5 linked regions of the Homo sapiens genome follow. The protein of the gene in region 2 purifies or fractionates together with the protein of the main gene of each other region. This does not show direct contact. Each region holds a gene or a part of one and is shown on either strand. Other genes may lie near its edges.

What was found.
Region 1: the proteins of LEF1 (region 2) and STAT5A purify together in Homo sapiens (affinity purification with western blotting, with the first as the bait; one study listed by BioGRID). This does not show direct contact.
Region 3: the proteins of LEF1 (region 2) and MVK purify together in Homo sapiens (affinity purification with mass spectrometry; one large-scale study listed by BioGRID and IntAct). This does not show direct contact.
Region 4: the proteins of LEF1 (region 2) and FHIT purify together in Homo sapiens (affinity purification with western blotting; one study listed by BioGRID and IntAct). This does not show direct contact.
Region 5: the proteins of LEF1 (region 2) and OTUD7B purify together in Homo sapiens (affinity purification with western blotting; one study listed by BioGRID). This does not show direct contact.

The regions. Positions count from the first base shown.
Region 1 is NC_000017.11:42,308,971-42,313,584, reverse strand, and holds the end of STAT5A (signal transducer and activator of transcription 5A), read right to left. Parts: intron 4,539-4,614; coding exon 4,487-4,538; intron 4,209-4,486; coding exon 4,101-4,208; intron 3,079-4,100; coding exon 2,916-3,078; coding exon of another isoform or gene 2,855-2,915; 3' UTR 1,642-2,854; downstream 1-1,641. UniProt on the Homo sapiens protein: Carries out a dual function: signal transduction and activation of transcription. Mediates cellular responses to the cytokine KITLG/SCF and other growth factors. Mediates cellular responses to ERBB4.
Region 2 is NC_000004.12:108,158,128-108,162,768, reverse strand, and holds part of LEF1 (lymphoid enhancer-binding factor 1), read left to right. Parts: intron 1-4,641. UniProt on the Homo sapiens protein: Transcription factor that binds DNA in a sequence-specific manner. Participates in the Wnt signaling pathway. Activates transcription of target genes in the presence of CTNNB1 and EP300.
Region 3 is NC_000012.12:109,580,220-109,584,860, reverse strand, and holds part of MVK (mevalonate kinase), read right to left. Parts: intron 3,467-4,641; coding exon 3,311-3,466; intron 1-3,310. UniProt on the Homo sapiens protein: Catalyzes the phosphorylation of mevalonate to mevalonate 5-phosphate, a key step in isoprenoid and cholesterol biosynthesis.
Region 4 is NC_000003.12:60,533,312-60,537,952, reverse strand, and holds part of FHIT (bis(5'-adenosyl)-triphosphatase), read left to right. Parts: intron 1-973; 5' UTR 974-990; coding exon 991-1,093; intron 1,094-4,641. UniProt on the Homo sapiens protein: Possesses dinucleoside triphosphate hydrolase activity. Cleaves P(1)-P(3)-bis(5'-adenosyl) triphosphate (Ap3A) to yield AMP and ADP. Can also hydrolyze P(1)-P(4)-bis(5'-adenosyl) tetraphosphate (Ap4A), but has extremely low activity with ATP.
Region 5 is NC_000001.11:149,947,761-149,952,401, forward strand, and holds part of OTUD7B (OTU domain-containing protein 7B), read right to left. Parts: intron 2,462-4,641; coding exon 2,334-2,461; intron 2,019-2,333; coding exon 1,869-2,018; intron 1,324-1,868; coding exon 1,209-1,323; intron 1-1,208. UniProt on the Homo sapiens protein: Negative regulator of the non-canonical NF-kappa-B pathway that acts by mediating deubiquitination of TRAF3, an inhibitor of the NF-kappa-B pathway, thereby acting as a negative regulator of B-cell responses.

The sequences.
Region 1 (4,614 bases), on a different chromosome or scaffold from region 2:
TCCTCAGGCCCTGCCCGCTTCCTGTCCACTGCCCCCTCCCCATCCCCAGCCCAGCCGAGGGAATCCCGTGGGTTGCTTACCTACCTATAAGGTGGTTTATAAGCTGCTGTCCTGGCCACTGCATTCAAATTCCAATGTGTACTTCATAGTGTAAAAATTTATATTATTGTGAGGTTTTTTGTCTTTTTTTTTTTTTTTTTTTTTTGGTATATTGCTGTATCTACTTTAACTTCCAGAAATAAACGTTATATAGGAACCGTCTGATAGCATGGCAGCTCTGTTTGGCTGGTGGAGGCTTCCTTTTCCCCTGCATAAGTTCTGAGGGGGCCTCACACACAGGTGGGGCCTGGGATAAGGGCCGGAAAGGGTCTTGAGAGGAGGTGGTTGCCTTAATCCCCCCCGCCAACCCCCTTATGTTAGCCACCAGCCCGGAGGTAAGGGGTGCCTGGAGGAGCAGGAGGTCAATAGTCCAACGGCAGAAAGGTGTCAGAGTGGAGGCCTCCCTCCCCGGCCCCCTCCTACCCCCCAGAGCGGCCTCGTCCTGTCTGGGGTCAGATAAGCCACCTAAGCGGGGTGGGGGGTAGATACTCCCACCGCACCAAGGCCTCCCCTTCCACAGTTGGCTCCTTTATCACTTTCCCTTCAGTTCACCCAGCGGGGACAACACGCAGACACCCGGTGGTGGCTGCAGGGCCCCCGGCAGCCAGCGGTGATAATGCAGGGAAAGGCGCCCCAACCTCAGCTACGCGGGCGCCCACAGGGCTTCTCCCCACCCCTACACGTGCCCCAGCGCCCTGGAGACCGCGCCTGGGAGCTACGAGCGAGCACCTTCCCTCGCAGAGATGGATCAGATTAGCCCCCTGGGGCGGTGGCACCTGCCCGTCCCCTCCCCTCCTCTCTTCTCCCACCCCCGCCTTCCCCCTGCTCTGGGCCCCCTGCACCTCCCTCTTGGGGCCCACGCGCCGCCCCTCTCCCTCGCTTGAGCTCTGAGCTCAGAAGGAACCTGCCCGCAAACCTGGCTCCCAGCCCCGCCCAGGGAGCGCGCGTCCCTGAGCCCAAGGGCCCCAGCGACAGCAGGGACTGGCTGCAGCCGGCAGTGCGGGGGTCCAGCCGGGGCGAGCCGGTCCCGCTTGCTGCACCTCCGCCTCGCACAGTCGCCGGCAGCCAGCTGAAAACAGCGCAGCCGCGTGGTGCCACCTGCTGGTCTCTGGGAAGGAGGAGGATGGGACGGTTGTTGCGGCTCTGGGACTGCCCCTGGCCCCGAGGGTTGAGAAGCATCTTGGCGCCGGGCCCTCAGCCGCCAGCTTCGAGGCTGCTGGGAGCAGCAGCTGCTAAGGAGAAGCCTGGGTCAGAGTTCTGCCCACCCGCGCCCATCTCCATCATTTCCCCAAACCTCGAGTCCCCTGCTTTTTAAGGAATCTGTGCCCCCTAAACTGGCTCCTTACCCTTCTGAGAAGCATTGACAGTATTCCAGGGGTGGCCAGCACCCTGAAAACCACAGCAAAGCGGGCAGAGTTAAAATTTAAGACTAAAAATGACAGCATCAGGCATGCACGCGGGAAGGAACAGAACAACCAGCTCCAGGGGTTCCCATCACCCAGGGAGGCCACCAACGCCCCAACCAGGAGCCATAGCAGCAAATTTATGAAAAAAATATTTTATTCCAAAACACTGTTTACACAAATGTGTGGTCTTTGTACAAAGTACAAAAAAACCCCTCTTCTCATCCCCACCTCCCTTCAGAGAAGTTTAAACCTTGGGCTCTCAATCTTCCATGGTCAGCTGCCCCTGACTGCGAGTCCTACAGCCTCAGAGGGAGGAGCGTGTGGGGTTGGGAGCAAGGCCTCACCAGAACACAGCCAGTTACGCAACAGCGCAAGGCCTGCTCCAGGCCCCACCTCCAGCGGAGTCAAACCAGATCAGCTTTTACCCCTCACTCCAGATTCCACAGGCACGCAGCACATGGCTGATTTGCAGCTTGTCTTTCACTGCAGTTTTTTGTTTTTGTTTTTTCCAGGAGGCAAGAGGACCAACCCTCCAAGTCCCGGGGCCCCTGTCCACCCACCATATCCTAGACCCAATCTTTTCTACCTCTTTGTCGACAAGGTTACAAACAGAGAGGCAAGCAAAGAAGGCTGGGGCCCAACGGAGGGGAGAGAATATATATCCCGGGAAACGTGGGCAACAGCATCATAGACTTGAATGAAGCCCAAGGCCAAGCAGCCAAGCAAGGACTAATTCAGAGCAGCTCAGAAACCCTCACTCAAACCGGCGGCCCCCCTGTGCTAAGGACATGGCCGGGCCCAGACGCGCTCTCATAGGGTTCACAGAGAGTCTGGAGTCCACGTTCACTAAAGTATAAAATACTACTCGAAAATGAACCCCAGCCTCCCTTCTGAGAGATGAATCGGTTACATCAACACATGAGGACAGATGCATTTACATAGACCCACACACTCTCTCTTTCTCTCTCTCTGTCTCTCTGTCTCTCTCTCTTAGGAGGGCAAAGCTTCTCACTCCGGAGTGAAACTTCAGCTTACAGACGTTACCTGTCTCCCCTCCCCTTCTGAATCATCTCATTCAAATAGCTGCTGAGCAGATGAGGGGCCCAGGAGGAATAGGTCTGGCTGCATTGAGTGCCTGCAGTGACAGAGGCTCGGTCTCTACCATGACAGAGACAGACTCGGCGCACTCTTGGATGCCATGATCTGAAAAGAGGCCACCGCTGCTGCAGCCACATCCCAGGACTGCACAGGGGAGGCAGGCGTAGCTCATGCACAAGGACACACACACACACACACACACAAGCACATGCATGCCTGCAAAGGTGTCAGTGTACACAGCCTTACTAAACTCACAACACGACCGCTTCACATTGCATATTGTTTCCAAAGAGAAGCGTGGGATTCAAACATTCATGAGAGGGAGCCTCTGGCAGAGGTGAAAAGACCGGCAGGGGGCGAGAGGCGGGAGTCAAGACTGTCCATTGGTCGGCGTAAGAGTTCCTCCACGTGCCTGGCCACATCCATGGTCTCATCCAGGTCGAATTCTCCATCCTGATCGAGTACATGGTCAGGGCTGGTAAAGACAGGGGGATGTCAGAGGGAGCTGGCATGTCTCACAGCCTCAAGCTCCCTGGGGACAGCCTCCAGCCTGCTCTCCACTCAAACCCGTCTCATGAGAACAGGACCAGTTCTGGCTGGATGCCCCCACCCCACCCCAAGCTGGGTAGCAGTCAGCCCACTGGCTTCTGCAGACCCCCACTCTATTCGCATCTCTTGCTAACTCACTGAATAATCTTAGGGAATTCATTTCCCCTCTCCGTGTCCTCATCTTAAAACCAGGTGGCTGACACAGTGGGCTCTGCCCACCTGCAATGATGCTCAGCTGCAATGGTAGGCACCGCCCCGTTCACTGAGCACTTAGAACAGCTGAATCTTTTCACTGAGCACCTAGAACAGCTGAGCCTATTGAGCACATGACTCCAATTTTTACAGCCAACTGGAGAGTGGGTATTGACCCCGTTTTATAGACGAGAAAACCAAGGCCATATCAGGAAGCTTGCTCTGGGCCACCTGGCTGGGAGGTGGTGGAGTCCGGATTGGAACCTGGGATCTTCAGTGGTCCCACTGGAAGGTGGTACCTCCCAGACATCCAGCCCTGGCTATCCACAGTGAGGAAGGGAATTAATTATCTACCTTGTTCCCACCAGACTCAAGAACAACCACCCCATTCATAGCTACCCTGTATCAAGCCCTTCCAAGCCCCTCCCTGTGGAAATGCTTCACCCACACTGTCTCAGTTTAATGCTCATCCCATTCTCATGAGGCAAGCATTCTTGCCTCCGTTTTACACATAAGGAAACTTGAGCATCAGAGAGGCTCAATCATTTTCCCAAGATCACACAGTTAGTACTAGAGTGAGGACTTGACCCTGCTATGTCTAGCTTCAAAATGCTCTGTTTTCCTGGCTGATCTCACTCCTCCTGGACTTGGGCCTAACCAGAGCTCTGGATCCTTTGCCCGCCAGCCCTCCAGGAGTCCAGCCTGGGGCCAAGTCCCCAGTTCTTCCCCTGCGGACCCCATGAGAACACCACCTACTTCTGTGGGTACATGTTATAGGGAGCCTGGGGGCACACAGCTGGGGAGGGGGCCTGGTCCATGTACGTGGCGCTGCTGCCCCCAGCATCTGCAGATGCATTCACAAACCTGCAGAAGGAAGAGAACAGAGCTTCAGCCACCAGGGAGGCCGGGGCAGCTGACTTGGGGAGGGGACCGAGGGGCATGTTTGTCTTTCTCGGGGTGTAGACGGACAAAGTGCCCCACTCGGCCCTGGGGCTCCAGCTACAGGAGAGGGGACTCCCTCCCCAGGGCTGAGACAGGTTCCCTGGGGGAGCGGAAAGCTGGGCCCAGGATCAGGATGGGAGGCAGGGTCTGGGGGAGGAGGAAAGAGGCAGAAGGAGAGCCACAGCCACCTGGACACTTACTCAGGGACCACTTGCTTGATCTGTGGTTTCACATATCCATCAACAGCTTTAGCTGTCAAGGGAAGAACAGTGGTGAGAACCAAAGTCTCTGGGAACTCCCAAGTGGGGTGGAAGCCCACGCCCCATGT
Region 2 (4,641 bases):
ACCAGCGTTGGTGACGGACTTTTTACTGACCCATCAATATATTTACCTTCTCTCCAGCCCCACTCTCCCTTTATCACCTAACCCCCAATGAAAAACACATGTCTATGGGTCTCGGGGATTAGGGTTCCAGTCTCACTGACAGCCCTGGAGGTCAAATCTCAGATTGTAAAATGGAACCTATAGTGTTTGACTTACTTGCCCAGTGTTTCTACCAACTGAAAAAAATCAGTCACAAACATCTGGGAAGAGTAACGTTGTTAATACCTTAGTGAACAAAATCTGGGAGTGAGAAGATTCACTAGCAGAGAATAGTGGCTCAAAATCAACAGTTATCAACAAGAGTATTTGTGGTTATCATTACACATAATCTTCAGTTGTTGAAATGATACTTATATCAAATATGATCACTTTGAGCACTGCAATTTAGATGTTATTGTAATTATTTTCCAATAAATTGCTAAAGGATATTTGATCTCTCAGCTAAGGAATAAGCTTTTTCTAATTTTTATATAGTAGTTAAAGTGGAGATCTTGGGGTTCTAATCTTGAGGGAGATCTTGTGATGGTTGCTGTAAGAAATAGGTATTTCATATTTTATTTTAAGGCTTTTCAAGTATTTAATGATAAAGATGTCTGTGTGATGAGGATGAATCTCCTACTTAAAAAGTAATTTAAAAAAGCAAAAATAGTTTAATATTTAGAGGCCCCTCAAATAAATGCTTGAGTTTTAAAAGTTGTAGGAGACTTTAAATTTTTGAACAAAACATACAAATATATAGATATCTCTTTAATATTTGGGCAGGTTTTTTTGCTGTTTTTGGAGGGGGTGGAGAAGGGAAGGAGAATATGTTTTAGATAAGGAATATTTGAAGATTCCTGTTAAATCATTTTCAGAATAACAAATAATCTTTCCAAATCAAAGTAGTGTTGGTGACAATAGAAAATAGCCACAAAACAGCCTTACGTTTTTCAGCTGTGAGTATACAGCATTTGTGGAATTTATTTCTTAAAAAGATCAGCTACTTCTCCTTTCAAAATGGTAATTTTAAAAAATCAATATAATGAAAATTTATTGGTATTTATAAGCAATCCCTAAGAATATTGAAAATTAAGCTGATCTTCCTCTTTATGCCAGCATTCTGCCTTGTGTTTCCACAGTCTTTTCTCCCAATCTACCAGTATACTAGTCATTTTGAAATTTTGATAGAAAATATCTTTTGATAGAAGGTATTTATTGTTAGTGTATGTATTAAAATTTTGAGGTCAGTGAATCAAACAGTCATTCATTGTTTAGGAAAGATTTGTGGCCAGAATAAATGTTGGTCTGGGTAAAGTGTAGGAAAGAGGTGTGGTCAGGAAACAGTTACCTTACCCTGTTATCTGTTGCTTTGCTTTATTCTGTTAAATATTAGGATGTATTTATTTTAGGCATGTTTTCTTGAGATATTCTGCAGTTTGCACAATTCCAGAAGCTTTTCAGCTGTAACCACAAGACTATGTAAATTTTTTTTTTAGGGTCCAACCGAAGTGAGTTACAATCTTTGGTTTTTAATACCTAACAGCTGTTTTTAATGTGTCGGAGATCAAAAACACTAACCGGAAGACAGCCTCTCTTCTTCACCCCTAACCACACTTCTGCCTTCTTGCTCTTTAACTCTGTCCTTAGCAGGGCTGAGTGTTTGTGTCACTAACATCCACAGTGATAGATTTTCATCTAGGGTGTCAGGAGCATGGTGACCATTTGTGTTTGGGCTTAGGATGGGAGCATCCCCTTGGCATCCTGCTTCTTGAATTTCCATTACAAACAATTGCTTGTTTACTGCATCTGCTTCCCAAAAGTGTTAGGACTGGAAAAACACCTGGGGTGGGGGAGGGACCTGACCACTCCTTCCCTAAACAGTCTTCTGTTTGTATCTAACTGCAGACAATCCAGAGGATACCAGCTATGGCCAACTGGCATGCAGAGAAATGTTTCTGCTGGAATCTAATTATAAAAAGTGCATATGCTTTTGCTTATTTTTTAGACAAATGCTACTGTGTGTATCCTGGAACAGATTTTACCTATGACCAATATACAGTATTACCTGTTCAGGAGCACCACTTTCACCTACTCAGCTTTTTTTCTTCTCAAGGGGAATTTTAATTGGCAAATTACATCCTTCTAGAACTGGAATCCTTAGGGGTGTGAATGTGTCTATACCAGAAATCTTATGAATGGGTCTCTCACAGAATTTTAAATAAGAATTCTTAGTTCAGATAAATTGGGTCTAAGAAGAAAGCACCTATCATGACATATTTGGTGTCAGCGTGAGTTCTTAGGGCATAGTAAACTTTGGCTTGAGTTGGTCTTCTTCACAGAGAGTGAAGAGAAGATGCAGAAGCCTGTTAAATATTTTAGAGCCAGGACCCTGGAGAGTTTATTAAAAGCATACTCCCAAACCTTTCGTTCTCTGAACTTTATTTATGAAAATCCCTGTAGGCCAATGGTAAAGTATTAAAAGAAAAAAATAGTTCTTTACATCCCTAGTTTGGCTCTGGCAGTTGTGTGCCTGAACACCGTGTGAATGGTGAGCTTGGCCAGCTTTAATGTAGTGAAAGTTCCCACTGGCCTAATGCACTGTGGTTATTCATCTTAGGCGTCAATCTTCCATTTGTCCCGCATGCAACCCAAATGTTTAACACCTTAGAAAAGAAACATCTCATTTCTCTTCAGATGCTTGGGGAGGGAAAAGCAACACAGTGCAGGAAGCTGCAGCAAACGTTGCAGCTCAGTCACATCAAACCACAATAACACCTGGTCAGTGTAGCGCTGCAAACTTCATTGTTTTTGGTTCTTTGTGATCTTTCTAAGAGTCAATTTTTAGGTGGGAAAGGAAAGATATGGGTGTTCTCATTTCAGCTATCTTTTAAAATGTTTATTTTTTTAAAGTAGAAATTGCTATGAAAATGTTCCATGAGTTCTTTTCTAATTACCTTGTATAACTTAGTTCTGTTGTGACTTTTACCTTAAGGGAATCAACACTTTGGTTTCTATTAAACAGAATTATACCTATTATAACTTTGTCTTACCTACCCTGCATATTTGTACTTGCTTATAAACAGCTAAAATCTGATTTTGTCATTGTTCACATCTGGAATTAAGGAACTAAGTTGGACTTGTCTAATCAGTAAGCTTCTGAATGTACCACTGTACGTGACATTGTTGGATACCTTTGAAAATAATCACATAAATAATATTCAAGGATAGATGGAGACTAAGGCTTATATCTCATGCAAGATTTTTAAGGTAGAGTATCTTTTCACTTTATTGCAAGAAGCTATTGAATTTGACTTAACCTATAAATAATTTTCACTTTTCTATTTTAAGTTGTGCACTTTTTGAAGCTAAACACATTGAGTTTTCCCCTTCAAGTGGAGAATAAGTTTTAGAAAGTGTATTATTCTAACTCAAATGTATATATAGATGTCAGGAGAATGTGTGGGAAAATTCCTCAGAGCCCCCAAAGTTTCCTGTTTGATCCCTCCTTCATGGCATTGCTACAATTTGGGACAGGATCATAGTCAGAATAATTGGAAGCGCTTGCCATTCCCCCATCAAATACCTTATGGCCAGTTTGCTTATTTAAGTGTGCCAGGAAGCCATACTACATGTAACCCTTGCAGAGCTAATATTGCATTTACATGCCTGGTTCTTACTCAGATAGTTTTTTTGAAATGACCCTAGTAGTTTCTTCTTCATTGATAAAGACATGAGAACAACCCAAAAGATAGTCTTAAAAAAAAAAGACCACACACTAAAAAAAAGACCATTGAGCCAATCCGCAAAAATCTTGCTTTTGAAGTATTTTTTCCACTCCCATACAGGTCTTAGATTTGCTCTCATCAACCTCATTATTTTGATCGAGTCTTCCCTGTGGTCCGAGACCCTTATGTGATTTAACAGAGCAGAGGTAGGGTCTCACAAATGGGACTCTCTGGACTTGAATTTGTAGACTCACAAGCACTTGCTATAATATCAATTTTGTAGCGGATGAGTTTTTTTTTTTTAATGTTCTTTAGACAGAACCATTTGGGTTTATGTGATTGAATTTTTTTTTGAGCAATCAAAACACTTCATTTTTGACTCCTTTTGTTCCTCATTTATGTATCATAGACATGACTGGAATTTTATAAAGCTGATTTCCTTTTGATTTTGGTAAAAGACTTGGAATTTAAAGAGAAAACATGCCAGCACTGTCTGTAGCAAGCAGAAAAACATATATGTTTTATTCCCAGGTAAAAGTAGAGCTCAGCATTATGTAGGTGCTGCTGTCCTGGGACTAAAGGTTGCGCGCTCTCTCTCTCTCTCTCTTTTTTTAAGGGAATGTTCATTTAAAACTTGTCCTCTTTGAAGCTGTTGCTTAAGTGTTTGTGCTGAGCTGAGCCAATCTGTAGGAAGCTAATACTGTAGTAATCAAGACACTTAGTACTCTTCTGTGCTATCCTTACATGTCCTTACTTATTTAGAAAAGGCAGCCATTGGATTTTATTCAGATAATTTAAAAATTATACTTTAGGTTCATGATTACTTTTTAAATATTATGATCTTGAATTACCTGCCTAGGAACTGTGGACTCTGCTATAAACTCTTTTAGGGATATAA
Region 3 (4,641 bases), on a different chromosome or scaffold from region 2:
CAGGCTGGAGTGCTGTGGCACGATCTCAGCTCACTGCAACCTCTGCCTCCTGGGTTCAAGCGATTCTCCTACCTCAGCCTCCCGAGTAGCTGGGATTACAGGCGCCTGCCACCACGCCTGGCTAATGTTTGTATTTTTAGTAGAGATGGGTTTTTGCTGTGTTGGCCAGGCTGATCTCGAACTCCTGACCTGAAGCGATCTGCCTACCTCAGCCTCCCAAAGTGCTGGGATTACAGGCGTGAGCCACCGTGCCCAGCCAGTGAGCCCTTTTTGGAGCCCATCCTATCACTGACTCACTGGGCATCTGTGAGCAACTGCTTCACCTTAAACCCTGTTTTCTCATCCATAAAACAGGGATAATAGTGTCTATCTCACTGAGGATATTGAGATGGAAAAAATACACAAGTGCTTTGTGTAATGCCCAGGAGATAGGATGTGCTCCCCTCAAAATAGGCCGTCTGGGGTCACAGCGCCTGGGGGCCTGGTTCAATCACTTACTTGCTGTGAGCCCTGAGCAAGTCAATTACCTGCTCTGAGTCTCTTTCTTCATCTGCCAAATAAGGATTTTTACGGACTTGGCAACTCACATGGTAGCTGTGAGACTATGATTAATAATGAGTTAACATCAGTTAACATACTATTGATTAGCATGTGCCAAACATTGTGCTAAATGCTTTCTCAAATGGACCATTGAGAAATGGTTCATAATCCTCCCAATTGTGCCCTACAGGGAAGGTATAATAATTATCCTGTTTCTTACAGAAACGGAAACTGAGGCTTGGATGGGTCAAACAGCATCCTGGAGATCACAGTGCTACTCACTGCTGGGTCAGGACCACATCTGCTGACTTGGAGCCCAAGCTCTTAGCTACTAACTTAATGGTGCCAACAAGATACACTCACTTATTCATTCAGCATTTATTGAGCAACTGCTATGTGCCTGTGACTAAGCTCCTAGTAGGGAGCAAAACAGACAAGGTCCCTGACTTCTTGGAGCTTAGAGTCTAATGGAGAAAGTGAAGGTCAGAAAGCGATCAGTATTCAAATACAAACAAATCCATGACACTGCAATATGTGACTTCAAAGCAGGTGTTTCTCAACAGGTGCTGGAGAGGATGTGGAGAAATAGGAACACTTTTACACTGTTGGTGGGACTGTAAACTAGTTCAACCATTGTGGAAGTCAGTGTGGCGATTCCTCAGGGATGTAGAACTAGAAATACCATTTGACCCAGCCATCCCATTACTGGGTATATACCCAAAGGACTATAAATCATGCTGCTATAAAGACACATGCACACGTGTGTTTATTGCAGCACTATTCACAATAGCAAAGACTTGGAACCCACCCAAATGTCCAACAATGATAGACTGGATTAAGAAAATGTGGCACATATACACCATGGAACACTATGCAGCCATAAAAAATGATGAGTTCATGTCCTTTGTAGGGACATGGATGAAATTGGAAATCATCATTCTCAGTAAACTATCGCAAGAACAAAAAACCAAACACCGCATATTCTCACTCATAGGTGGGAATTGAACAATGAGAACACATGGACACAGGAAGGGGAACATCACACTCTGGGGACTGTGGTGGGATGGGGGGAGAGGGGAGGGATAGCATTAGGAGATATACCTAATGCTAAATGATGAGCTAATGGGTGCAGCACACCAGCATGGCACATGTATACATATGTAACTAACCTGCACATTGTGCACATGTACCCTAAAACTTAAAGTATAATAATAATAAAAGAAAAAAAAAACAGACCAAGGATCCAGAGCTACCTAATTACATTTAATAAATGATAATATAGTTAAAAAAACAAAAACAAAAACAAACCAGGTGTTTCTGTAAGAGTACGATGGGCTGAATTGCTGGGGGCTGGGGCGGGGTGGTGGTGCCTGAAGGACAAGGGGAGCCAGCTGGGCAAGGTGTGTGTGTGGGGTGCATTCCAGACACACCACTTGTGCAGCACTGGAACCACACCAGAGCTGGCTGGCCCTTCCCAGGGACCAACAGGTGGCAGCGTGCCTGGGATGAAGTGAGTGATGGAGGCGGGGGAAGGTAACTCAGGCAGCTGACCTAGCCCAGGGCCTGGCCCTCTCAACAAATGTGAGTCTTCCTCCTGCTCTACACAGTTTGTTTTTTAGGGGGCTCAGATTTGAGTCTTCAAAGGAGACTGGGCTCCAGTCCTTTCCGACTCAGAAACACATGATGGGTGGGGTGTGGTGGGGTGGGGTGGGGTGGGAGGTCTACTCTCCCTAAGGGTTCTGAGAAGGAATGACTGGCCTTCAGGGGAAGGTGGGAGAAATGGTTAGAAGCAGCATAAGAACACACACACATGCAAGTGCACACACACAGTCACCCTCCACCTTTTGAAAGACAGGGCCAGTCCTTTGGCCCGTGGAAAATCACTTGAACCTGGAGGCAGAGGTTGCAGTGAGCCAAGATCACACCACTGCACTCCAGCCTGGGTGACAGAGCGAGACTCCATCTCAAAAAACAAACAAACAAACAAACAAACAAACAAACAAAAAAACCAAGCTCAGAAAACAAAACAAAACAAAACAAAAACAAGCCCAGGAAGAGGACAGAGCTCTGCATTTGGGGGCCTCATCCACAACTCCTGGTCCTGGGACAAACTGCGTAACCTCTGCGCACTGGGTGGTTTCTCAAGGAACATTCTCCTAATGATAGAAATGGTCTGTGGTCAAGCCTGTCTGGACAGGCCTCACTGACTCACGTGGTCAATAGGAACGCAGAGAGGTGACACGCCCTCCGTGGAGACGGCCCCGTAGGAGGAGAGATGCCCTAGTCTAATGGGCACACCCCCTAATGTGGATTTCTCAGCAAACTCTTAGTTTCTTTCATAACCATGTGGTAAAACTGGACAATCACCCCTAGGGCACTGTCATTACCATACAGAGGAGAACACTGTCCTAGCCTGAGTCAATGCAGAGGTGGGAGGGTTCATCTAACCTGCTGCCCTCTAGATCTGGACTCCAGCTCTTTCTACCATACCATGGGCGCTTGAAACCAACAGAGCCAAGATGGGGGTGAGCAGAGGTGGTGGAGAGCAGGAGAGAAAAGCTCAGACTCTGAGTTCAAATCCCACTCTGCCAGCACTAGCTGTGTGGCCCTGGGCCAGCCATTTGACCTCTCGGGGCTCAGCTTCCTCATGTTAAAATGGCCACTATGACACCTCTCACCTCACAGGGAGGTGGTGAGGTCTCAGTGAGAGAAGCCACGTCCCTGTCCTGCCGTGCGGGAGGGACACTGGCCAGGTAAGGACCATGGTTACCTGTTGACGCAATCCCCGTCCTTCAGCGGGTTTGGGATCTCCTCGCACACAGTCAGGAGGGCTGCTGCCAGACACACCGAGTAGGCGGCGCTGGAGCCCAAGCCCGCCCCGGGGGGCAGCTCCGACCACACTACGATATCCAGGCTCGGCAGGGCCCTGAAACACACCAGGGTGTGAAACGTGACTCTCCCGCAGGGCAGTGGGGTGCCAGCACTGAACCAGGGGCCAGGCCCAGGCCTGACTCCAAGCATCTGGTCCAGTTTTCTCAACTGGGGGAGAATTCCTGACCCCAAATGTATCCCTATTGAACATCAGGAACTCATGCTGAATCAGACAACTAGAAAACAGGTATCAAGTTCATTTAAATCCCTGGGTCATTCAACCAGAGCCCTTCCCAGAAGCACCTGGCAAGCTGTCAACCCCTTTCTCCCACCTCCTTCCTGTGCCCACATGCTAGGCTTTTCTGTGGGCCTGCTCTGAGCACAGGCTGGCCCCTCTGCCTGCAATAGCCGTGCACCTCCTTATCCCACAGAGAAATCCCTACCCATCTCTCAAGGCCTTATCAAATGTCGCTTCCACTGTGACACTTTCCGTAGCTGCCCACAAAGACCCTCCTGGCTCCCCTTCTAGGACCCCCGCCTGCCCTCCCTCCCTCCACCGCTGCCTCACCACCGCACACTAGGATTGTGTGTTCACCGGGGCCTCTCCCGCCAGACGGTGCTCCCCAACCATGTGTAACACGGGTCTGCTTTTGATCACCAGAAAGGTCCGAATCGCTACATCTTACATGTATTTCCCCCAAGCAAGAACTGTCAAACTTCATGTTTGGTAATTTCCACGAAGTGCTTTTCCCATTTCCCAAATAGAAAAATTGTAATAATGTGCGTCTTCAAATTCCACGTACCCACCCCACCCAGCCTGGAAGATTCTGGAATGCCCCTCACCCACTTAAGGGGACATGCCTCTCTCAAGTTGAAATTCTGCTTCGGACGGCAAGTATCAGGCCGTTTCCGAATGTGTCCTCAGCATAGAGCCTGGCCACTGAGCCAGCATCTGCTGCTCAAGGGAAGGGCTGCCCCCTTGAGGTTTTTTTCCCTTTGGGTTCTGGACAAAAACAAAAACAACAAAAACAACAACAGAGAGGCTGGGGCCGGGTGCAGTCGCTCATGCCTCTAATCCCAGCACTTTCAGAGGCCAAGGCAGTTGGATCACATGAGCCCAGGAGTTTGAGACCAGCCTGGGCAACACAGTGAGACTCCATCTCTACAAAAATTTAAAAATTTAGCCAGGCATGGTGGTGCGCACCTGTAGTCCCAGCTACTTGGAAGGCT
Region 4 (4,641 bases), on a different chromosome or scaffold from region 2:
TATTTTCTAATTTCATCCTTTTTGTAATCCTTTCTCTGTTTTTCTGTAGATTGATCCATGTTCCTCAGTTTCATACTAGGCTGTTCCCGAATTAGAAAAATGAAGTAGTTTTCTAGGGATGGTGTTTCTTAGTCATTCACAAAGTGTGTCTTAGTCATTCACAAAGTAACTTTGTCATGTATTGGCATCCACCTGATTGAAAAGTCATTCCTTGGTGCTAGATGGATTTGGCTTGTCTCAGCTGTGCCATTTGCCAAATTCCCTTCAGCCTCCCTTTCCTGCCCCCGGCCCCCCATGGCTTTCCCTCAAAAGGAAGACGCAGAACATTTCAGGTACCTTGCTGCTTTGTGGCCCTGTTACAACCAGGAATTGTTCTAGTTTTGAACTCCGTTTTGCTCCTTCCTTCTTTTTAAATGTTTTTTTTCTCCTTTATTTTGGAGATTTTACTAGAATAGTTCTCTGGAAGTGCTCATGTTTTTGTAATTGTAGGCAAGGTCAGACAGTGTTCGTACTTGTTCTAAATTGCTATTATATGAACACAAAACCATTTGAGAGAAGCATTTAAGAATTAGAAGGTTTATAGTTAATACTTAATGAAAATTTTCAGCTTAGCAGACATGACAAAATAGATGGGTAAAAATAAGTAGCTGACAAATAGGGCCTTGTGGATTTGAGTTAAGGTGGCACCGTGAAGTGCAGAGGGAGTGAAGGGGAAAAGCTGTTTTATTGTCCACGTGGAAGCTTCTGCTTGAAAATTGCTAACTCTAATCAAGGAAACACTGGTAGGGAGAGTGGAGTATTTTAGAAAGACTTTCCCAGAATGCATCTTGGTGAACATTCAATGAGGAACAATTTCAATGGCATCCTCTCTGCAACTAAGAATCTGTAGTAATGGAATTTGCTTTCTTTAAGGTGGTATATGAACTGAGTTTCTTAATTGAATTTTATAACTATCCATTGTCTTTTCTTTTAGACTTCAACTGTGAGGACATGTCGTTCAGATTTGGCCAACATCTCATCAAGCCCTCTGTAGTGTTTCTCAAAACAGAACTGTCCTTCGCTCTTGTGAATAGGAAACCTGTGGTACCAGGACGTATCCTTTCTTTTTTTTTTTGGAGAGGGAAAATAAAAGTCTTCTGAGCCTAACCAGCCAAATGAATATAAATACAAGATTGGCCTCCAGTCTGTCCAAAAAGGTAAATAAAGAATCCATCTCCCTCCCACTTCGGAGACACCAGGTAAGATGTTACTCATATTTATTCTGAATCCAGTTGGTGGCACCAGTAATATGCTTGATCAATGTTGCAGAACTTCTGAGGAGAGTTGCTTAGCAACCGTGGCTTTGGAGGTGAATTTTTGCTTGACCTTTTCACTACCATAGCTGAGTAAATAAATAGGTGCTTCTAAAATGAGCCCAGTGAATATCACGGGCACTTGGTTTTCAGCTTATCTGTTGTGAATTTTAATAGTAGATTGAGTGGTGCCTTTGTGATGTGGAAGTAAGATATGTGAGGATTTGAGACTGACTTTGTTGCTTTACCTCTTGGAGATCATTCAAGTTGTGCGTTTTAATTAAATTTATATTATAGATATACTTACAAATTTTTTTTAAAAAATATTAGGACCTGAAATAGCATTTTCTCTTGGGAAAAATACCAGCTTGCAGATCATTGACCAGTGTCATTGGTGGAGTTGTTTTATTTCCCTCTGACCACTGAGTTGTAGTCTTTCCTCCTATAGACTTCAATAGGAGCTTTATTCTTTTGCAGTGGGAATAACAAGTATTGGTGAAATGCTTGGGAAGTTATCTTTATGTTGTTAAAAGTTTCACTCCTGATTGTGTGCATATGAATTTTGTACGGACTCTTCAGGATGTTTTTCTCTTTCCTCCTTCACTTAGTTTGCCATGCAGAAGGCAACAGAATAAAATTTGATATTTTCAGATAATAAGTATTTTCCACGCTGAGACATGATTTTGCTTTGAAATGAATTTCTTAGTAATTCTGAATGTACAAATATGCCAAGAGGTTTTTCAGAGTAAGCTACATTTTTTTTCCAGTGAAAATGTGGAAAGTGCCTGAGAACTTTATGAACAAGCTTCTTTTCTAGCCACGTAACTATTGTATGCTAAAAAAAAAAAAAATACAAATAAGAAAAACATGTACCAAAAGATAATTGTGATTGTATTATAGACTCCCAAATTTCTGGAATCCAAATTCTAGTCAAATAAATTGTATTAATTTAGAAAACTAATAAGCAATACTCTAGTAAATATGTAAGCTTTTCTTAATATTTAAAACTCTTCTTTTAAATGAGTCTAAATAATATTAGAAAACTATTTTCTTCTGTTTATTAAAAAAAAACACTAGAATGATTTAGAAAAGCCCTAGAAAACAGCACTTTTAATTTTAATACCAATTGTGTATTGAAATCTTTTAAAAGACCTGAATTTCTTGAAGTAACATTTTATTTTGCTATAAGTTTGTAGTGGGCTTTTTCCTTTGGGGTTTTTTAAAGCAAAATGTCTGTAAATTCAGGTGTTAAAAGAATATGGTTTAAATGCCATCTCTCTCTAGGTGCCAGCTTTAACTGACTTTTAGAAAAGAAATAAAGGGACCTGGGATGAAAATATGAATTTAGACAAGATCCATTTGTCTAAATTCACTCTCATTCCTATGAAAATTAGAGGTCACAGAGATGTACCACTTTTTTTTGTTGTTGTTCCTTTTGAGGCAGAGTCTCACTCTGTAGCCCAGGCTAAGTTGCAGTGGCACAATCTTGGCTCAGTACAATCTCTGCCTCCCGGGTTCAACCGATTCTTGTGCCACAGCCTCCCAAGTAGCTGGGACCACAGGCAGGCACTACCACACTGAGCTAATTTTTGTATTTTTAGTAGAGACGGGGTTTTGCCATGTTGGCCACTTTTTAAAATGGTTAATAATGGAATGAACTCTGCTTTGTAGTTTTTTTACTCATATCTTGAGAGTAATTTGATATTTCAGACTTTTTAACAAACTCAGAAAAAGTGATGTCTAAAACCAGGGCATACCTGAGTTTGAACTCAAGAAAAGTAGAAATGTCTATGTCTAGGAAAATATCTGTAGTGAATAGTGAGCAAGTAGTGAATGACAACTCGTTTCTTTGTAGATGGCACTGGTGTCACCATTTGGGAAATGAACCCTGCTCAGTTACTTTATATTTGAGTAAATACCAAGGGCTCGGAGAATATTTTATTAAAATTAACACACTTCAGTTTGTTTGGAAGGTAGCAAGAAGGATCCAACCCTCTCTGATTATAAGAACAATGAGAACCAGAGCTTTTTTAAAATCATTATACTCTATAAGTCTAATTAACAGCTGCAGTATTTAAAACAGTCTCAGGGCCAGTAGACAGTGTATTCAGACAATGCTTTTTATGTGATGATTTTGTAACTTTTTATTTTACTTTACCTTTATAAACTCTGCCATGTTACAACTGGGAGACGCATCTTTTTTTTTTTTTTTTTTTTTTTTGAGACGGAGTCTCGCTCTGTCGCCCAGGCCGGACTGCGGACTGCAGTGGCGCAATCTCGGCTCACTGCAAGCTCCGCTTCCCGGGTTCACGCCATTCTCCTGCCTCAGCCTCCCGAGTAGCTGGGACTACAGGCGCCCGCCACCGCGCCCGGCTAATTTTTTTTTTTTGTATTTTTAGTAGAGACGGGGTTTCACCTTGTTAGCCAGGATGGTCTCGATCTCCTGACCTCATGATCCACCCGCCTCGGCCTCCCAAAGTGCTGGGATTACAGGCGTGAGCCACCGCGCCCGGCCTGGGAGACGCATCTTAATAAGGTACTCCTTTGCTTGCAGAAAGCTCTAGTCTTTTGTCCTGAGACTTGAGAATGGAAGATGTGGATAGCTCTGTCCACTAACATTTCATAAATAAATGGTGAGATGTCTGGAGTGGGCTTTTATCTTCCTCCAGTGTTCTCTCCTGCCTGCCCTAGTCTAGCCCTTAGGTGTGGTTCATCTAGATTTATGCTGTCTCCCTGCCTCTGGGCTTTTCCAATGTAGCCTATAACTTTATCTGAACCACAGCCCTGACCATATCATTCTTCTCTTCCCTTGTTAATAAACCAATAAGGAATGTCTGTTTTTTGAGGATAAAGTCCAAATTCCTTAGAATAGTTTTTAAGGACCTTCATTGTACTGGCTCAGTCTCCCTTCTTTCCGGCTGTTCCCTGAATATGTGTTGTACTATCCCTTTACTATACTTTCTCCTGCCCCTCACCTCAACTGGAGATTCCTCCCCATGCTTTTCATTTCATCTGAAGTGCTTTGATAACTGTCCCCTGCTCCTAGGGAAGAAAACAAAACAAAACTCTGTCCTCTGTTTGTGACACTCACTTCCTTATTCTCATGTTGATTCATTCAGTACTTTATTACTGAGCTCATACTCTGTTCCAGGTACCAAGACCAAACACACAGCCCAGTCTGCCTCATATCCAAAGTACGTGCATCCCTATTTCTGTCTGCACTGAGTCTTTGCTTCCTATGGACGAGACCTGCTCTTGCACATCTCTTTTTTCTTAGCATCCAAATGTACTGTGTTCACTGAATCTAAAGTGAAGCTGGAAACATCAGGAGTATATGCATTGTTCCAGT
Region 5 (4,641 bases), on a different chromosome or scaffold from region 2:
CCAGTGGCAGGAGCCCAGAGAGTGAAGCACTAGGTAAGTGCTAAGGGAGGAGCTTTTGCATTCATACACTCTCCATCAGGAAGTTGATGCAGGAGGCAGAAGGAAGGCTTAACAAGCCACAGGGAGGTAGAGTGGGGGCTGAGAGGGTAGGGAACATATTTTTCTTGCTATTAAATTCCAGAAAGGCAAAAACTCAGAGCAAACTATTTTTATCACGTATTTATTTATTTATTTTTTGGATGGAGTTTCACTCTTGTTGCCCATACTGGAGTGTAATGGTACCATCTCAGCTCACTGCAACCTCCGCCTCCTGGATTCAAGTTATTCTCCTGCCTCAGCCTCCCGAGTAGATGGGATTATAGACATGCACCACCACGCCTGGCTAATTTTGTATTTTTAGTAGAGATGTGGTTTCTCCATGTTGGCCAGGCTGGTCTCAAACTCCCGACCTCAGGTGATCTGCCTGCCTCGGTTGCCTGTTCACTCTGATGGTGGTTTCTCCCAACATGCTGGGATTACAGGCATAAGCCACCGCACCCAGCCTTGATCAACTCTTTAAAACTCCTCTCACTTGGGCTAAGACATGTGATTTGATTATCCTGATTTTCTTTCTTTCTTTTTTTTTTTTTGAGACAGACTCTCACTCTGTTGCCTAGGCTGTAGTGCAGTGGCACGATGTCGGCTCACTGCAACCCCTGCCTCCTGGGTTCAAGCGATTCTCCTGCCTCAGCCTCCCTAGTAGTTGGGATTACAGGCACGCACCACCACGCCTGGCTAATTTTTGTATTTTTAGTAGAGACGAGGTTTCACCATATTGGCCAGGCTTGTCTCGAACTCCTGACCTCGTGATCCACCCACCTCAGCCTCCCAAAGTGCTGGAATTACAGGCATAAGCCACCATGCCCGGCCTGATTATCCTGATTTTCTGATCAATGTTTTAGAGATGAATCAGTGTATGAACACTTTTCCTATTGTAAGAAAAGAACAAGTTGAGATGCTAGGATTCCCATCTCTTTCACAGGGAGAAAAAGCAGCTGCACCATGAAAGAGTCCTGGTGCCCAACCTCTCCTCTACCTCCCCATCTTCCCAAAACTCATCTTAGCTTGTGACTGTCTTGCCTGAGCTGAGGAAAAATCCCTGGGAGATGGATGCCACATGTGGAAGAAATCCCAGCACAAAATAGATGAAAAGACTAGGCCTGGCTTACCTGGCCAATCGGACATTGTCACTATCATCTTTGCCCCACTCCCAGCCCTTTCCAGGGTCCACAGCAAAGTGCAAGGGCAGCAGCTTATACTCTGAATCTGTAAGTGGGATCACAGCTGGAGAGGAAGAAACATATCATCAAGGAATCTCCTTAAGAGAGAAAGGTAACTGAACACAGACTTATTTCACTAAAATCATACTAAGGTCTTTAATTGTAGTCACTTCTCAATTCTTACACGTGAATTACCCCGGTATTAAAACTAATTGGCTAGTTTTCCCGCTACCACGCAGCATATGTTTTAGGCCACAAATCTCCCTGAGTCCCCACCAGTCAGTCAACTAACTCTCATGATGTTCTTTCCAGTTAATGTATATTCAGAGAATTCAGTCATAATTTAAGACAAATTAGAAAAGCATCATTTAGAAGCTCTTACACCTTAATCATAAGCCTTTACTCCAGAAGAGGGTATATAGGTCTTGCTTTTCTCCCAACCCTTTTTTTTTTAATTTGAAAACTCTGGCGTAACTTCTGGCTTAATAAAACAGTATCAACATGTGCTGTCTGGGCTTGCATGTCACTTAATTCTTTCCTCCTACATTAGATCTCATTCAATTTTTTCAAGTGAAAATAATGCAGACCAAAAGACATGTCATTCAGCACCTTGTTCCTTGGTATTCTCCTTCTGCTCCATGGACACGAGTGCAGAAAAGTGGGCCTGATCATAGGCGAGCACCAGAGGGGAGCGGTGACACTGGCTGGCTGGGACCTCCAAAGGCAGATAGATTCCTCCAAAGGGAATAGGGGCAAATGCTGCAGGAAGCCATGAAGATTATTATGAAGGCTGTGTTTCTGCCTAGTGGACAATCCCTACATCCCACTCTGCCAACTGAGTCCCTCCCTGCTTTCATTCCAACATGTTTAATAATTCTTTCCTAAGAAGCCCTGTCAACTAATCCCAACTGCTTTACTCAGAATCTCTTGAGAATTTTGCACTATTCTAATTGATAACTTGCTTTTTCCCCAAGGGTCTATATATCCCCTTTCCTGCCTTCCTTCCAATGCTTAGCCTAAGGCTTTGCAAAAGGGGGTGCTCAGCATGGAGTGAGGACTGACTGGCTGACTCACCTTCCCCTCCGGAGTCCCTCAGCATGGTGTCTGCCACGACGACTATGGGCCTCCTAAGCACATGAGCAAGGACAAAGACGTGAAACTCTTCAAGGCTCTCATATACAGGCTCCTCAGAACTCTCCACCCTGGAACGACGGGAAGGGAGAGAGTGAAAAGGGTGCAGTAAAAATGAGAGAGTAGAAACAGGAGACCCTGAAGACCAGTTCTGCAGAAAGGGAAAAGAAGAATGTCCTTTCCTGGTTTTCCAATCTTAAGGCTGCCACTGATATAGCTGATTATTTTATGCTACCATGGCTGTTTCTACCTCCGTTTTCACAGATGGGGAAATCCAAGAAAAGAGATTTGAAGGCTCTAGGGTTAAAGCAGTGTTAGGAATTTGGAGGTAATCCCTATCTCTTAATATTCTTCCTGTTCAATAGCCTCTCTCCATTCTCTTCATCCAGTAGCTCAATACACAACTGCATAGCTTCATCCTACTTATTTTATATACTACAGCCACCCACACATCACACTCATGTCTTACAAAAACAGCCAAACACAATTCCTTTCCTATGTTCCTTTCCTCACTGAAAGAACAGCTTCACCATCTATCCAGTAGCATAATCAGAAATTTGGAAATATTTATTGTGCTTTTATCTCTCACCTTCCAGTAGTCACGTGATTTAACCAATTCCATCTCCCGTGTGTTTTTTGTTTTTTTTTCTTTTTTTTTTTTGAGATAGAGTCTCGTTCTGTCCCCCAGGCTGGAGCAGTGGCGCGATCTCGGCTCACTGCAAGCTCTGCCTCCCAAGTTCACGCCATTCTCCTGCCTCAGCCTCCCGAGTAGCCGGGACTACAGGCACCCGCCACCTCGCCCGGTCTAATTTTTTGTACTTTTTGTATTTTTTTTTTTTTTTTTTTTTTGTAGATGGAGTCTCACTCTTTCGCCCAGACTGGAGTGCAGTGGTGCGATTTGGGCTCACTGCAAGCTCCACCTCCTGAGTTCAGGCAATTCTCCTGCCTCAGCCTCCCGAGTAGCTGGGACTACAGGTGCCCACCACCATGCCTGGCTAATTTTTTTGTATATTTAGTAGAGATGGGGTTTCACCGTGGTCTCGATCTCCTGACTTCGTGATCCGCCCGCCTCGGCCTCCCAAAGTGCTGGGATTACAGGCGTGAGCCACTGTGCCTGGCAATTTTTTAAATTTTTAGTAGAGACGGGGTTTCACCGTGTTGGCCAGGATGGTCTTGATCTCCTGACCTCGTGATCCGCCCGTCTCAGCCTCCCAAAGTGCTGGGATTACAGGTGTGAGCCACTACGCCTGGCCTTCCTGTGTGTTTCTTTTATCTGTCTCCCGGGCTTATCTTTAGTCTACCACACTGTTCATCCATGGCCCTTTCCTGGATTACTACAACTGCATCTTATCCCACTCCTTTCCACTTCATTATCCACTGGAGTCAGCGTGTTCAAATACGGAGGGACAAATTTGCTCCTGTCATTCACATACTCAATATTCAATGGCTTCCACCCCCTAAAGCAATTTTATTCAATATTGGATGCTGATTACAAACAAGGATTTCTGGGCCTTACCTCTGTCCAACTCAACTGGACTTTTCTGGGGTGGAGGTCCAGAAATCAGCTTTTTAAATAACTCTCCCAGATTATTCTTATGTACAATAAAATCTGCATAGGTTATAATTTTTAACCATTATGGAAAATTTCAAAATTTTAAACATATTCAATACTAGAAATGATAATATACTAAACACTCATGTATCCATCACCCAGCTTTAACAATTATAAACACATGGTCAACCTTTTTTTTTTTAAACAGAAAGTTTATTACAGCATATTACAGGCTTGTGTCAGTACTAAATTGATCAATAAACAGATTCTAGCCTGCACTTTCAGGAATGCACCCAAAGCTACTCCTCAGATCTAGAGTAGCATGGGAACTGCTTGCTGCTCCTGCACTAATTTTTTTTTATTATACTTTAAGTTCTAGGGTACATGTGCACAATGTGCAGGTTTGTTACATAAGTATACATATGCCACGTTGGTGTGCTGCACCCATTAACTCGTCATTTACATTAGATATATCTCCTAATGCTATCCCTCCCCCCTCCCCCAACTCCACAACAGGCCTTGGTGTGTGATGTTCCCCACCCTGTGTCCAAGTGTTCTTATTGTTCAATTCCCACCTATGAGGGAGAACATGTGGTGTTTGGTTTTTTGTCCTTGCGATAGTTTGCTCAGAATGATGGTTTCCAGCTTCATCCATGTCCCTATAAAGGACATGAACTCATGCTTCTTTATGGCTGCATA